2 separate regions of the Homo sapiens genome follow, and region 2 is linked to region 1. The links come from fine-mapping of genetic effects on gene expression. A gene starts in region 1. The other region holds a variant in brackets. All regions are shown on one strand. Distances are from middle to middle.

Evidence for each region. PIP is the estimated chance that this variant, and not a neighbour inherited with it, causes the effect.
Region 2: its variant is the best candidate, but not a certain one, in a credible set for the expression of ARHGAP27 in cerebellar hemisphere (GTEx, PIP 0.64).

The regions. Positions count from the first base shown.
Region 1 is chr17:45,431,691-45,434,592 of GRCh38, reverse strand. It overlaps ARHGAP27 (Rho GTPase activating protein 27), which reads left to right and starts at 1,723. Exons shown (of 20, transcript NM_001282290.2): 1 at 1,723-1,841; 2 at 2,244-2,377; 3 at 2,841-2,902. It also overlaps a transcript of PLEKHM1 not described here.
Region 2 is chr17:45,491,394-45,494,295 of GRCh38, reverse strand. LOC105369225 (a long non-coding RNA gene) reads right to left here. Exons shown (of 5, transcript XR_002958152.2): 1 at 1-2,902. Among named protein-coding and RNA genes, the nearest start is that of PLEKHM1, 2.1 kb to the right of the region's middle. The variant A/C (reference allele first, on the strand shown) is at 1,436.

The DNA.
Region 1 (2,902 bases):
GTGCCTGTAATCCCAGCTACTCAGGAAGCTGAGGCAGGAGAACCACTTGAACCCGGAGGCGGAGGTTGCAGTGAGCCAAGATCGTGCCGCTGCACTTCGGCCTGGGAGACAGAGTGAGACTCTGTCTTAAAAAAAATAGCTGATATATTGTGTGCGCTGGGCATGTGGTAAGCACTGCTTAGTGGACCTCATTTAATCTTCCCAATAATCCAGTGAAGTGGGTGTTACTATCCCATTGACAGGAAAGAAATCTGAGCTGCAGAGATAAGGCAGAACTCCCAAGGCCTACCAGCCGCCAAGCAGCAGAGTGGGGCATCATACCTGCCTGACCCCACGCAAAGACCATCACCACTGCCAGCCACTGCCTGGCTGTGCTGCAGGTGGAGAGGGACCTAAAAGGTAGGGAGGGAGAGAAGATTCCTCCAGCCACGATTTTCTTTTTTTCTTTTTTGGTTGTTGTTTTTTGAGACGGAGTCTTGCTCTGTCGCCCAGGCTGAAGTGCAGTGGCACGATCATGGCTCACGGCAGTCTCCGCCTCCCAGGTTCACACCATTCTCCTGCCTCAGCCTCCGGAGTAGCTGGGACTACAGGCTCCCGCCACCACGCCCGGCTAATGTTTTATATTTTTAGTAGAGACGGGGTTTCACCGTGTTAGCCGGGGTTTCACCGTGTTAGCCAGGGTTTCTCAATCTCCTGACCTCATGATCCGCCCGCCTCGGCCTCCCAAAGTGCTGGGATTATAGGCGTGAGCCACCGTGCCCGGCACCAGCCACTATTTTCTAAGCATGTCGGGCACCAAAGACCAGTGCTGAGTTCTGCTGTGTGCCCACCCTGGAGGGTCCCAAGGTGCCACCAAGGCTCAGACACACAGATTCTCAGAGGAAGTGTGGACTCACAGGTGGGCAATGCCTAGCAGAGGCAAAGATATAGAGGTAAGGGAGTTCCTTACTTACTATATCTTACAAAGATATAGAGGTAAGGGAGTTCCTTACTTACTATATCTTACAAAGATATAGAGGTAAGGGAGTTCCTCTGAATCTGGGTGGCCAGATTCAGCTTCCCACCCAACCCTGGGTCCCCAGGAGGTGGTGTCAAGAGAGGCCATGGCCTGGGATGCGGGCCCTTCTTCCTCCCAGAACACTGGCCTGAATCAGCCAGCTCTTGGCACACACAGCCAGGTCCACAGGCACAACTGTTCCTTGGGGCCCCTGAGGGCAGGGGGTGTGCTGGGGCTGTGGCTTGTAATGTCTGGAGTGAGTGCAGGCTCAGATCAGGGCGAGGCTGCTTGTCCAGAGAGGCAGAAAATTCTCCAACAGAAGACCCCCAAGGCGGAGGGCCCTGGGGCTGGACTCCTGGAGGTTGTTCTGAGCTTACCCTGTGGACGGATTGGAGGGTGGCCCTCCTTCCCCACAAGGATCAAGAGGGGGTGGGGGATGGTGGGAGGGCAATCTGGCCAGGCGAACCTGCGGGGGAGGCTCCCGCCCTCCCCAGTCCCACCATCTCAGCCCCGCAGCCTCTTTCTCCCTGGAGACAGCCAGGTGCGGCCCAGGATCCCGGGAAAGGCAGGGGAGGGGGTGGCGTCTTCGCTCCTCAGGCGCTGGCCCGGCCCAGAGGGGACAGGAAGCCAGGACACCGGGGATTGTCTCTCGCAACCGCAGCCCAGCCCCAGTCCGGGAGGAAGTTCTGCCCGGCGCTCTCCGCCGGTGCCTCCCTGGTTATATTGTTGAACAGGAAACCCGGCAGCGCGGGAGCCGCACAGTCGAGGAGGGAGCGCGGGACGCCGAGCCCACGCGCGCCTGCCGGGGCAAGTGGAGGCGAAGCCGGCGAGCGGACGCCCCGAGGTGCCCGGGCAGGCAGGGTCGGGAGTGGGGCGCCGAGCGGGGGTTGGGGGTGGGAAGTGGGGTGGGGGTGGGGAAAGGGCAGGGTTGGGAAGGGAAGGGTGCGGCAGGTGGCGGGTCCGCACCCGGGAGCTCCGCGCGCCTGCTCCCCTTGTCTCCGCGCTGGGGCGGGAGCTGCGCGGGCCGCATCCCACGGGGAGGAGAAGGTAGGCGAAGGGCTGCCCTCCATCTGGGGGCTGGAGGGAAGCAGGCCCAGGCCCCCAGCGCCGACCCAGGCGTTGACGCCCCTGTAGCTTGAGTCGCCTGGGCAGTGGACGCAGGGGACCTCCTGGCGACTGGTGCGCTGTCGCGCTCCAGGGATCCTCCCGGCTTCCCCAATCCCTCCCCTTCTCTGCGTTTCCCCAGGGTCGGGGAAGGAACCGAGGTCCGGTCCCCTTCTTATCCAGCCCGAGACATCGAGCTCCGGTGGGCGTCCCTGCGCTGGGAATCCCGCTCGGAGTTTTTCCAGGCCCGGCCGGGCTGCTCCGGGAAAGGCCCTGGTGAGGGAAGAGGTGGGCCCGGAGCGGGCGGATTTGCAATCCGGTTGGAAGGGCTCGCAGTGGGTGATTCAGGGTGCAAATGACCTCCCCGGGAACAGGAACGCCCGCACGAGACAACCAGCCCCAGCCCGGCATTCCCAGAGCCGCGCACAGGAGGGACGCAGGCACTCCCGGACAGCAAATCCCGGGGGGTGGGGGGTGGGGGGGCGGGGAATAGAGGGGGAAGGCGGAGCGGGGGCGGTCCCATCCTCCTTGGGCTCCGCTCGCGACCTGCCAGTGCCCCTTCAGACGCAGCAGTCCCGGCTCCAGGTGCCGGCCTTCTGCTCTGGGCCTCGTCCCAATGCCCCCCAAGGTCCCCAGCAGAGGCATTCAGGCTCCTCCTCGCCCCACCCAGACACGGCTGCTTTGGGTATCGGTGACAGCACTCCTGAGCGTCCCTGTCCCTCTTCGCTCTGCTTGCCAGCTCCTGTTCCGCGCAGCCTCTCCGGCCTCGCCCCTGGAAACCCCGCCCAGGGCGATGGTAGG
Region 2 (2,902 bases), 60 kb before region 1:
AGACAGGGTTTCACCATGTTGGCCAGGATGGTCTGGATCTCTTGATCTCATGATCCACCCACCTCGGCCTCCCAAAGTGCTGGGATTACAGGCATGAGCCACCGCACCTGGCCACTTAACCTCTTTTAAGCCTATTTTCTCATCCATACAATAGAGATAATGGCAGCACCCACCTTTCAGGTGGCTGGTAAGGAATATTAGGTGAACACAGGTGCCTATGTATGTTCTTCCATTTTCCATAAATGTTAATTCCCTTATCCCTCATCTCCTAGGTTAGTCCCGGAGGACAGACTTGAACTTTGAAAACAGAAAGTAACTGCCAAAAGGGATTATTTAGGGCACAGATTTCCCCCTTTCATTATCCTTTAGGTCCTCAGTGGTGAGGGCAGGGGACAGGAGAGGTGGGGTGAAGCCCAAATTCTTGGACCTCATCCTAGAGTGACTCTTTAGGGTTAGTGTGGGGCTTAGGAATCTGCATTTTGGACCTGTCCCCAGGGCATTCTGATGCCTACAGTTCTCCTGTGTGGCTTTGAATAACGCTGGGTAGTGCTTTAAATCCAAGCTGACAGACCAGTGGGATGTGAACCATCCTTGCAAATGGTTTGAGCCCTTTCTGCACTGGCCTCCAACTTTGCCTTGCTCAGTCTTCAGCTCCCCTTCCATTCTGGCCCTCTCCCCTTACCCTTTCCTTTTTCACTTCCTTTTATTTTTATTTATTTTTATTATTATTTAAAAAAAATTTTTTTTGAGACAGGATCTCACTCTGTCGCCCAGGCTGTAGTGCAGTGGCATTATCTTGGCTCACTGCAATCTCCGCCTCCCGGGTTCAAGCAATTCTCATACCTCAGCCTCCTTAGTAGCTGGGACTACAGACACACACCACCACACCTGGCTAATTTTTGTATTTTTAGTAGAGATGGGCTTTCACCATGTTGGCCAGGCAGGTCTCGAACTCCTGACCTCAAGTGATCCACCAGCTTCGGCCACCCAAAGTGCTGGGATTACAGGCATGACCCACCGTGCCCAGCCTCCTTTTTCACTTCCCACCTTCCTCCCCACCTCTGGGTGCACCCTTCCCTGAGCTCAGCCTGTATTCCTATGTGCTGGCCACTTACCAGCCAGTCCCTTCAGCTGCAATACCCTTTACTCACCTAGAAAGCTCATATCAAAAGTCGCCTCCTCCAGAATACCTCTCAAGTTCTCCTCTCTGGTCCCTTGGCCCTTTGCAGGTACCTTTTTTCTTGCGCAAGTCACGTGATAATGTAAGGGTTTTTTTTTTTTTTTTCCCCCCCATCTGGAGCCTGCCTGGTGGGCTCAGGGTCCATTTGTGCAAACATGCATTTCCCTCTCCTCTGCGCCCCCTCCTTCATGATCCATGCTTTATGCAGCTTCCCCAAGGCATGCAGAGCAAGCTGAGAAGAGGTAGGCAAGCCTG[A/C]AGACTTTTCAAAGAAGCAGGGTAGCTTGGGAAGTAAGAGAAGACCAGGAGATAGGGGCTCCTAAAAAGCAGACAAGAGATTACCGAGGGGTTCCCCACAGCTCCAGCACACAGCCGCTGCACAAAAATGCAGTGGAATTACTGAGGGACATTATGTGCTTGATGGGGGACAGGGAATGCTTGTGCCAAGCCACCAAGGATTATGCTGTGCCAGTTGTATACTATCGTTTTGCCAAGGTGAAAGGATTTCCCTACTAAATCCCTTACTTTCCACTTTGTTTAAAATGAGTTTAACACCGAGAGAATAGTTTGTCTCTATGTCCTTATTTCTAATCTTCCTGCTCAACCATTAACTGCAGTAAACACACTCAGACCCATCTAGTCTAAAATTGAGAAGGGGAGGTTCTCACTCCTGGAGAGAGAATTACTGAAAGGGCGGCCCTCATACAGTCCAGGGTCATACCCCCAAGTGCTGGTTTTATACTTGAAAGCAGACAGTGGGACTCTGAACTTTGCAGAGATAAGAGGGACACCTTCCTACCCAGAGAAGCCAAAAGAGCACAGGACGCCCAGGCCGAGGGCAGTGAAGCTTGCTTCCAAGAACTGGCCCGTTCCCCAGCCAACCCCTGTGCCCACTTAGGACTGGCATGTAGCAGTACCTCTCCTCATCCACACTCAGGCCCTAGGCTCCCAATTGACCAAAGCCTGCAAGTATAAAGTGTCCAGAGCATGGGTCCCTGCCAACACTCCCTGCCCTGCTCTTCACTACCTGTGGCCACCACTTATGACATTTTGTTCCGAGTTCATCTGAAAGAGAAATGTCACTTTTGCGTTAGAAAGAAGATATACAGGCCAGGTGTGGTGGTTCATGCCTGTAATCCCAGCACTTTGGGAGGCCGAGTCAGGAGGATCGCCTGAGGCCAGGAGTTGGAGACCAGGTTAGGTAACACAGTGAGACCCCTGTCTCTACAAAATAAACAAATTTTTTTAAAAATGAAAAGATTGGCCGGGCGCGGTGGCTCACGCCTGTGATCCCAGCACTTTGGGAGGCCGAGGCGGGTGGATCACCAGGTCAGGAGATCGAGACCATCCTGGCTAACACGGTGAAACCCCATCTCTACTAAAAACATAAAAAAATTAGCCGGGCGTGGTGGCGGGCTCCTGTAGTCCCAGCTACTCGGGAGGCTGAGGCAGGAGAATGGCGTCAATCCAGGAGGCGGAGCTTGCAGTGAGCCGAGATCGCGCCATTGCACTCCAGCCTGGGCGACAGAGCCAGACTCCGTCGCAAAAAAAAAAAAAAAAAGAAAAAAGAAAAAATTAGCTGGGCGTGGTGGTGCACGCCTGTAGTCCCAGCTGCTTGGAGGCTGAGGTGGGAGAACCACTTAGTCCGTGAGGTCAAAGCTGTGGTGAGCCGTGATCGTGCCACAGCACTCCAGTCTGGGCGACAGAGTGAGACCCTGTCTCAAA